2 separate regions of the Homo sapiens genome follow, and region 1 is linked to region 2. The links come from fine-mapping of genetic effects on gene expression. A gene starts in region 2. The other region holds a variant in brackets. All regions are shown on one strand. Distances are from middle to middle. Region 1 has its middle 11 kb from the start of GJA3. Region 2 holds the start of GJB2 (gap junction protein beta 2).

What was found.
Region 1: its variant is fine-mapped to the expression of GJB2 in nasal epithelium (TOPMed, PIP 0.98).

What each region holds. Positions count from the first base shown.
Region 1 is chr13:20,169,061-20,174,060 of GRCh38, forward strand. No RefSeq gene overlaps it. Among named protein-coding and RNA genes, the nearest start is that of GJA3, 11 kb to the left of the region's middle. The variant T/C (reference allele first, on the strand shown) is at 2,612.
Region 2 is chr13:20,190,225-20,195,224 of GRCh38, forward strand. GJB2 (gap junction protein beta 2) reads right to left here and starts at 2,714. Exons shown (of 2, transcript NM_004004.6): 1 at 2,559-2,714.

The DNA.
Region 1 (5,000 bases), 21 kb before region 2:
AACCAGCTGTGTGTGTGTGTGTGTAAACACAGTCATATGTGTATGTATGTGTGTGTATATATTTGTGTGTGTCAAAAAGTTTAGGCTGGCTTTGTATGTCCACCAAAAGGACAACCATGACCTGTGGGCAGAAGTTCCTGGAGAACAGCTTTTGCTTAAACCCATTACATATACCCAACTAGAGTTGTCAAGAAGTGGCTTCAGGATGTGGTGGTTTCCAAAGGTAGTGGGTGGGATGTCTGTGGAGTGTGTCTCTGAGAAGGTGGCCAGGAAATGCATCTATGAGGTGATGGGAAGTAACTTCCTGGAAGGGAAGAAGAGTTCAGATTAAATTAAGGCTGGATGTTAGAAGTGTTAGATAAAACCCTTTGGAGGACCTGGTGGATGCTGGAAATTTGTTAAGCGAGCCATCCATGTAAAGTGCAGCAGGGAAGGGTGCGTCTTGGAGTCAGCTGGTGGGCGACACTGTGAGGCGACTAGCCCTGCGAACTCTTGGGAGGCTGGGACTGAAGAAGACTGAGGAGGAACAGATGTGCCCTGGGCTCCCTTCTCCAGCTCCTTAAAATACCTGTGTCCTACAGGGAGGACAGACGGAGAGATGGTGCCACAGAACCCAGGAACTGAGCCTGGGAGGCTTTGCTGCTTTTGGTGTTGGTTGAACAGGATTTGTTCATGGATTACTTTTTTTTTTTTTTTCCACGCAGGCTGGAGTGCAATGGTGCCAACACAGCTCACTGCAGTCTCAACCTCCGAGGCTCAAGTGATCCTCCTGCCCCAGCCTCTCAAGTAGCTGTGACCACAGGCGTGCACCACCACACCTGGCTAATTGTTAAATTTTTCATAGAAATGGGCATGTTGGCCAGGCTGGTCTTGAATTCTGGCCTCAAGTGATCCTCCTGCCTTGGCCTCCCAAAGTGCTGGGATTACAGGCGTGAGGCACCATGCCTAGCCATGGATTACCTTTTTGATTCCTCCTTTGCTCTTTTCTTTCTTGGCTTCTACTGGCTACATTTTCTTCTCACTTGTCTTTCCTATCCTTTCCTTTTAATTTCACTTTTGCCTAATGCAGTCATAAAGACATTTCTGTCAATGATGAACTGCATATCCAACGGTGGTACCATAAGATTATAATGCCATATTTTTACCATACCTTTGGTATGTTTAGATATGCAAATTCTTACCATTATGTTACAGTTGCCTTCAGTAATCAGTACAGTCACATGCTGTACAGGTTTGTGGCCTCGGAGCGATAGGCTACACCACACAGCTTAGGTGTGCAGTAGGCTATTCCATTGGTTTGTGTGGGTACACCCTATGATGTTCCCACAATAACAAAATTGGCTAATGACACAATTCTCAGAACGTACCTCTGTCATTAATCGAGTGACTGGGTATCATTTCTTCTTTCCCTCCCCTCAGTCCCCATCGCTGATGGCTCTTCTCCATCAGTAACCAGCCCCCACCACCACAGTGTCCTTTTTACTCTTCCTTCCTCCCCACCCTTACCCCTTGTGATGGGAGGAATGAGCAGAGATGGTGCAGGACCAGCCAGTTCCTGCCAGCAGACTCCCTGCCACCAGCAGCCGTTGCTAGATAAGTAGAATACACCTATTTCTTCAGGACAATTGAGAGAAAGTCTGAGTTTCCATCACTGGTCTGCCCTTATTAGCTCTCTGCCCTGGGGTAAGTGGCTTGCCCACACTGCCCCCGTTTCATGAGCTTATGTACATGGAGATTACGTAGGATTGTTACGAAGATGAATCAACATGACCCAGTGTATGAAGTAGCCTAAACCAGTGCTGGTGCATAGTTGGTGCTCAAAAAATGGCACCCGTTATTATTACTTAGAAACTTGTATAGCAGTTTGCCATTGCTGTGACATTTATATTGTAATTTACACAGGTTTTGATCCTCAAGAGATTAGGGAAAAAATCTTTCACTACTAATGTCATTATTTCCCCTTCTTTGCAAAAGCTACTTACTACGAATAGAAACATTTACATAACGAGTGAATTTCTCAAATGGTGCAAGAATCAACCGCAAAATAGGCCTCCTCTTTTGAGTTTGGGAGAGAATAAACAAACAGAAATGAAACAACCTGGTTCCTATGAAGCCTCTTCTTGCTTCTTTTTGCCTCCCTGCGGGCCCCTTTGTCAGCACAGGGCAGGTGCTGAAGAACTTGTGCTCATCTGGCCCAAGCGCCTCCTCCATGTTTTCATCCTTGACAAGCCCAGACCAGGAACTCAGTGTCCCCTCACAAGAGGACAAATTTAATTTCCTGCTTATCCAAGATTTGTTTTATTTGATATGTAGGGACAATGTGTTTATAAATGGTTAGCAGCTATTAAGAGTGTAGAAATGTGTCATTTTCTTAACAGATAGGATCACCAACCCTCTTGAAAAAAAGTTGACATCACTTTCTAATATGGCCCCTGTGTAATGTCCCCAAGGCACTGTGTGATGCCACAAAAGCAAAATAAAATATTTGAAGTGTGTAGATTTCAGTTTACAAAGGCCAGGCCTATTGTTTGCCAAGGAAAAGAAAGCAGGAACCACTGGGTTCTCCGACAGTACTTACTTGGCTTTCTTCCTCTAAAAGAATGAGGCATTA[T/C]TAATCCTTTTATTTCTACCAGAGAGCACAGAGCAGCTGAGTGATAGATGTTATCTAGCTTAAATATGCACTGGGTAAGCATCTGAGTGCAGGTAGCACTGTTCTAGGAATTATGGGGCTCCTGGGAAAGCGTAATGTGTTTAGTAGCTTATAATCCATCAATATGAGTTGATGTTGATAAGTTCATTAATATGATTGATGAACTTATAATTCATCAACCCATCAAATGGCTGACAAGCACATGAACTATGCCAAAGGCGCTGGGGTGTGATGGTGAGCTGAGTTGGGGGTCTATTCTCTCTCAACTTACAATCAACAAGATGAGCATTAAACAGGTAAATGCACAAGAAAACATGTACTGTGTTTCACTGCATCTAAAGTACGGTTGATCATAAGACATATCACCATGTATGTACCACTGAAGTAAAAGCCTGACTGTCATTGTTGGATGTCGCCAATTGTAAAGCACGGCTCTCTATTTCACAGGTGTTAGAATGGGAAAGAATTGTGTGTCTTAGAATCTGTGTGTGTAAGAATTAACTTATAAGTAAATTAATTACTAATCACGGTGAGTTCTTTATAGAAAAGATGTTACAAGAAAGCCCAACAGAGAGCCCTGCTTTAGGATGAGTGACATTTCAGCTGAGGCTTGAAGGGTAAGGACAGGGGAGAAGAGTTGGTGGGATGCTGTCTCCAATGGGTGGTGCAGGAGATAGGTGAACAGCGGCGCAGGGGAGGGAGATCAATATGGTGGGGATAGTCAGGGAAATATTGGAGGTGGGAATTGAGCTGCATTTTGAATGATTTGAGGTGGAAAAGGAAGGCCCAAACAAGGGACATAACACTAGCTAAGGCCAAAAGCAAAAGATAATGGGTGAAAAATCCATTTTATAATTCAAGTGGAATCCCAAGAGACTCCAAATAGCCAAAACAGTCTTGAAAAGGAGGAACAAAATTAAAGACTCACTCTTCCTGATTTCAAAACATACTACAAAGTGATAGTAATCAACACAGTTTAGTACTGGCATAAAGACAGACATATAGACCAATGGAATACAACACAGAGGCCAGAAATAAACACTTACATGTATGGTCATCTTCCACAAGGGTGCCAAGACCATTCAATGAGGAAAGGACAGTTTTTCAGCATATAGTGGGGGAAGCTGGATATCCACATGCAAAACAATCAAGTTGGACCCTAATCTTCCACCATATACAAAAATAAACTCAAAATGAGTAAAAAACCTCAATGTTAGACCCAAAATAATTCAACTTGTGGAAGAAAACAAAGGGCAAAACTTCACAAACTTGGATTTGGCAAATGATTTCCTGGTTATGGCACCAAAGCCACAGGCAATAAAAGAAAAAATAGACAAATGGATTTTATGAAAATCAAAAACTTTTATGCTTCAAAGGACACTAAAGAGAGTGAGAAAGCAATCCACAGAATGGGAGAAAATATTTGCAAATCACATATCTGATAAGGAATTAATATCTGGAATATATAGCGAACTGCTAAAACTGAACAATAACAGTATCAACAGAAAACAAGCTGATTCAAAAGTGGGCAAAAGACTTCAGTAGACATTTCTCCAAAGATAGACAAATGACTCATAGGCACATGAAGAAATGCCCAATATCACTAATCCTTTGGGAAATGCAAATCAAAACCGCTATGACAGCCCACCTTACACCCATCAAGATGGCTATTATCAAATAAACCAAAAATAACAAGTGCTGATGAGGATGTAGAGAAACTGGAGGCTTTGTGTACTGTTAGTGGAAATGTAAAATGGTATAGTTGCAGTGGAGTACTGTATGGTCCTAGCACTTTCTGGGAAGATGAGTTAATTCTCTCTTCATTTCAGGGCCCATGTGCGTGGGTGGTGGGCTGGGAAACTTCTGTTGCTTCTGGGCTTCCTCCCCCATGGCTGCCGCGAGTCTCAACACTCACTTGCACCCTGGCTCCCGCCTGGCATCCTCAGCCTGCCCTGCTGCCTGCTCAGCGAATTCTACTCGTCCTCACCCAGTGTCCCTCAAGGCTTCCTTCAAATGTCCTCTCCACCAAGGAGCTTTCCCCGCCACCTGAGGCAGAGGAAACCACTCCTTTCTTGATTCTGCAGATGCAGATTCAACAGACACCTGGCACTGATGGGCACCGAGATGTCCTGTGTGTTCATGGAGTTTATGTTGGGGTTTGGTTGGGGGCACCCCCGAGCTCCCCTCCACAGTTCAGAATGAAACAAGAAATAAGACAGGACAGGCAGATAAAAATGTCAGCTTCAAAAGCCAGGATAAAGTGACTTGATACCCCTTTCTAAACTAGACAGAATCAACTACCTGCTCACAGCTGCTGGCCTCTTTCTTGGTGGCACAACCTGCCCCAGGC
Region 2 (5,000 bases):
AAGTTTACATTTGAGGCACCCCGAGTTAAAATTTTACAAAGGACCTTGCTTCCTCCTACGTGAAAGGAAGAGGTTAGGAATGCCCTCTTCATGGAGAAAAGCCACTGTGAGCACAGACTTTCGTGTAGGCTTTGTGGATGGCTTGGTGGCCTCACTGTCAGGCTGGCACTGATGGCTCAGTTAGCATATCTGTTTTGATAAGTGCTGCAACAGTGCATTATAATTGTGGGCTGTGGTTTTAATTTCAAAGTGTTTCTTAAAAGACACATTATTTTAAAATGACAGAAAATTCAACTCCCTCGGTTACTGGCCCAGCTAAGCGACGTCACTGCATTGCAGTTCAGCGCTGAAGCTTGGGAGAGTCCCACACTCCTTACTGCAAGCGGATGTGGAGAGGCCAGTGGATAATCTCCTGTGAGCCCATGGCCTTCTTTTCATCCCAGGATGTGAATTGTCTTCACTGATTCATAGTTACACCCTGCCTGCCACAACCAACGCTCTCCTAAACAAGATTCCACCCTCTCCACAATCCGGATGAATCATCTCTTTTCCACCCTTCAGAGCTGGTAGTGAATCCTCCTTCTTCTTTTTCTTAAAAGCATCCTCCTCTCCTCATTTTAGGCAAGTTGCATCCCGTTTTCTGATGGACTCCAGAAGCAGGCTCGTAGTGAATGTCTTTCATGACCCACAGTCGCTGCCACGGGGCACCAAGGTCAGGCAGAAACCATCCAGTGCCACCTTGGTCAGAGGCTAACAGGAGAGAGGTGGCCACGAAAGTTACATCAGATTGACATAGGCCTGTGAAACATTTAGCTTCACTGAGCTTGGGAAAGACAACATCATTGGAAAAAACAATATTTTAGCCCAGGTTCAGCACTGACCCATTGATAATCCAGACTGGGAGGCCCTTAGGTGAGCTGGTTGTCCTGCTACAGCACCCACAGCTCAGGCCAGTCCCGTCCCAACAGCAGAACCACCGAGGACAGCAACATTCCGATTTTAACAAAAGCATCTTATGGAATTAGACATTCTTCATTGGCCCTCACTGAGTGGAAAACAGGATACTCCCCGAAGTAAACTCTCTCCTGGTTTACAACAATACACCTGGCCAAGAATATGGGGCTGCAGGAGGAGGGGTTTATCCTTTGCCCTCTTCCACCTGCCAAACCCAGGTCATACACCCTTCTACAGACCTGTCCAGTTACCATCAGCTGAGAAAAATACAGTTCCGAGAAACCCTATATTGTTATTTTATAAAGCTTGAGTTGAAGCTACCTGTTTTAAAGATCCTTTTTCAGGAAGAGGAGTAAATTAAGATTTACTCCCCAATGGGCTAGGGGGTCATGGGTTAAGAGGGGCTCAGAAGCAGGACGAAGTTGTTTTCAATATTCAAGTCAGAGGAGGAGCTGCCCTCCTGGCCTCCCGACCCTGGGCGGTTACATGCAGCTTCCTACCGGGCCCACGCCATCCTGCACCGCCTGGAGGGCTGCCAGAGGCCAGCGGAGGAGTTGGTTCAGTTCCTTAGGGAAGACACTAGGTGAATCACCAGGATCCAGAAAAGGCAAAAGGGACTCTTCACCCCTTAAATTTCTCCACCCTTAGGTGATGGGTGGTCGACCTTGCCTGGCTGTCCCCAGAGGGTTCCTCCACCCTTCTCACCAGTGTCTGAAATTGTGACCGACTGTGCACAGCAGTTTCGAAAGGGACTCTAAGGTCACATGGGGACACGGCCGTACCACGCTTCTCAAGGCAGTCCCAGGTGCATGGCCACGGAACCCAGCTCTCAGCAGCTGTTAGTTAGGTGAGCGCTGTTCGGGCTGCCTTCCTCCTCCAGTGGGGCAGGATCGAGGCACTGATGGAACCGTCCTGAGGACGCGGGTCTCAGCCGCACACCACCTCTTCGCGAACAAGGGTCCTAAAAATTTTCCTTCTAGGCGGGGAGCACAGCCCGGAAACAGACCCTCGTGAAGTGTTTAGGAAAAAGGGAAGCCACTGAAATCTTGGCCCCGGGGTAGGCCGGGATCGGCTGGCTCCGCGTTAGTTCTAGGCAAACTCCGCCCAAATCTCTGCCCGGGGATTTTTCTGCAGAAGCCGCTCCAAGAGGTAAAGGTCAGTTCCTGCAGCGAAGGCTTCCTGCTTCACCGGCGAAACGGAGCTTTGCTTCGAAGCTAAGCTTTCGGTGAATTTAAAACGTTTGGTGGCAGTGGGTCAAGTAGCCAGGCGGCTGCGCTAGAGTACCCCGAAGGGACATCGGCGACACCACAAACCTCGCGCTGGCGGCTCGCCCGCGCCTTTTTCCCCTCCCGCGCGCGCCCGGCCCCACTCGCACCCCGGGCGGTGCCATCGCGTCCACTTCCCCGGCCGCCCCATTCCAGCTCCGGAGCTCGGCCGCAGAAACGCCCGCTCCAGAAGGCGGCCCCCGCCCCCCGGCCCAAGGACGTGTGTTGGTCCAGCCCCCCGGTTCCCCGAGACCCACGCGGCCGGGCAACCGCTCTGGGTCTCGCGGTCCCTCCCCGCGCCAGGTTCCTGGCCGGGCAGTCCGGGGCCGGCGGGCTCACCTGCGTCGGGAGGAAGCGCGGCGGGGCCGGGGCGGGGGTCTCGGCGTTGGGGTCTCTGCGCTGGGGCTCCTGCGCTCCTAGGCGGGTCCTGGGCCGGGCGCCGCCGAGGGGCTCCGAGTCGGGGAGAGGAGCGCGCGGGCGCTGCGGGGCCGCAACACCTGTCTCCCGCCGTGGCGCCTTTTAACCGCACCCCACACCCCGCCTCTTCCCTCGGAGACTGGGAAAGTTACGGAGGGGGCGGCGCCGCGGGCGGAGCGCGCCCGGCCTCTGGGTCCTCAGAGCTTCCCGGGTCCGCGAACCCCCGACCGCCCCCGAAAGCCCCGAACCCCCCAAGTCCCCTTCGAGGTCCCGATCTCCTAGTTCCTTTGAGCCCCCATGAGTTCCCCAAGTGCCCCCAGCGCCCTGAGTCTCCCCCGGTTACCCCGAGCGCCGCCTCCCCCAGCCCCTTGGCGGCCCGGGTGAAGCGGGGGCGGCTGAGAGTCGGGACCCCCCAGGAAGCGGCGCCCCAGACCCCGGCTCCGGCGCTGTGCCGTGGGCGGGGTTCAGGGATGGCTGTGGTCGTTGTCCTCTGTACTCCGCATAGTGCGAGAGGACTTGGCATTTATGAGCGCTTCTTTAATTTTTTATTGTTAGAGAAACAGGCATTCCTCCAAGGACTGAAGATCTGTTCGAGTCGCGGAGGCTGCGCGGGCCCGCGAGGCTCTCGCAGGGGGACCTAGGCTGGGTGGCGGGGCAGTGCCCTCTGGAATGGGGGTTAACGGTGGCCGAGGAGGGGGCGCCGCTGGTGCCGGCGAAGTCCCCGCTTCTTTCTCCCCTCAAAATCTCACCAATCCGAACGAACGCCTTCTCGAATTTCCGATTTTATTCAATTACTTTCAACAATGTGCCAAGGACTAAGGTTGGGGGCGGTGGGAGAGACAAGCCTCGTTTTTGCCATGGCCGGCAGGGGGGTCCCGCCATCTGCGGAGGGTGCCCCCCGCGGCCCCCGGCCCAGCCAACTTCCTCCTCTTTTCGCAACTGGGGAACTGCAAGGAGGTGACTCCTTTCGGGGTGAGGAGGCCCAGACTTTTCAGAAAGGAAAGAGGGCAGGTAAAACCTGCCAAGCCCCTTCCTGCTCGATGCACACAGCACGAAAGGGGGAAACTGATAGGATTCTGCGGAAGACCGCTGGGGGGCTGGCTCTGCACTGCACACCTGCTGGGGGCTTTCTGGATACCGTGAAACTTTGTCTCAGATTATGAGGTCTCAGTATTTGCATTTGGTTGGGGATTTTGATGTCTTGCGATACAAATGACAGAAGACAGATTTGCACAGCGCAAGCGGATGAGGGACTAAGATGTGCAGAGCAGGCTGGGTGGGGACTCCCGGGGAGGTCTCCCCCAACCCCCGCCCCACCTCGGGCACCCACTTCGCGATTTTTGCAGAGGGGAGCCAGGTCAGAGGTGCAGCCTGGTCCCCTCGCGCTCACGTTTTTACCCAGGTCAGTTCGAAGTTAAGTGGAAATGATGATTAATCCTGACAAGTCAGATCTGGCCTCAGAATGGATTTCCCGTGATTGCCACCATTATTAGCATTGACTTTTCCTTGAAAAATTGGCGCCCCGTGGCCATGGGCCGACCTAGGCAGTTTCTGCAGGGACGAGCGTGAGTTTTGTACCGCGGTTACCACCTACTTTCCAGCTCCAGGTCTTAGTCTAAGAGGGAGTGTCTGCTCATGAAGAGGCAAAGCCCCAGGAGCTGCGAAAAGCCTTGCATGGCCCATCTGAGAGATGTGCTGAGTCGGCTTGTTAAAAATGACAGGCAAAGCCTGTGGGGTGGGGCAGCTTTCTTGGCCTGAGCGCATCTTGGTTGAGCCAGAGGTGACTTGGGGTGGGGAGTGGGGCGCCGGTTGGTGGGTTCTCCCTTTAATTTCTCAAAGGCTGTGGTGTTTATGAGTCTGTTGGAATCCTGGTTGGGTTGGAATGAAGGAAGGTTCTAGAACCATTGTGGGAAGCTCGCTAGTAAAGATGGTTTGGAGATCGGAAGTTGACTGACTTTCCCCCATTGAAAAATGTCACCTGAGATTTTAGTGCCTGTATCACGATTATAGGCTCAACTTTCTTTTCCTTGTTTTCTTTGATTTAGTTCTCCTTATGTGCAAAATTACTGTGTGATGTTGGCTAGTCGTATTATCACAGCCACTCCGTGTTTTCAGGATTTGTAGCTGGAAGTCCTATAGCACTTAAGTCTTCACTTACAGATCAGCGCTTGCTTTTATTCTGTTTTGTGTGATTTCTGCTGTTTTCCTGTGAGTTGGTGTTTTCTTCCCAAGTAGGCTCAGGACTCCTCTAGGGCAGGACATTATATGCATGTACATAGTGTCCTCCAGTGTAGGGGAGGAGAAGGAGGAGAGGTGAGGTGGGAAAAGGGTGAGGGAAGGCTTGGATATTTGAAGTTATTTACA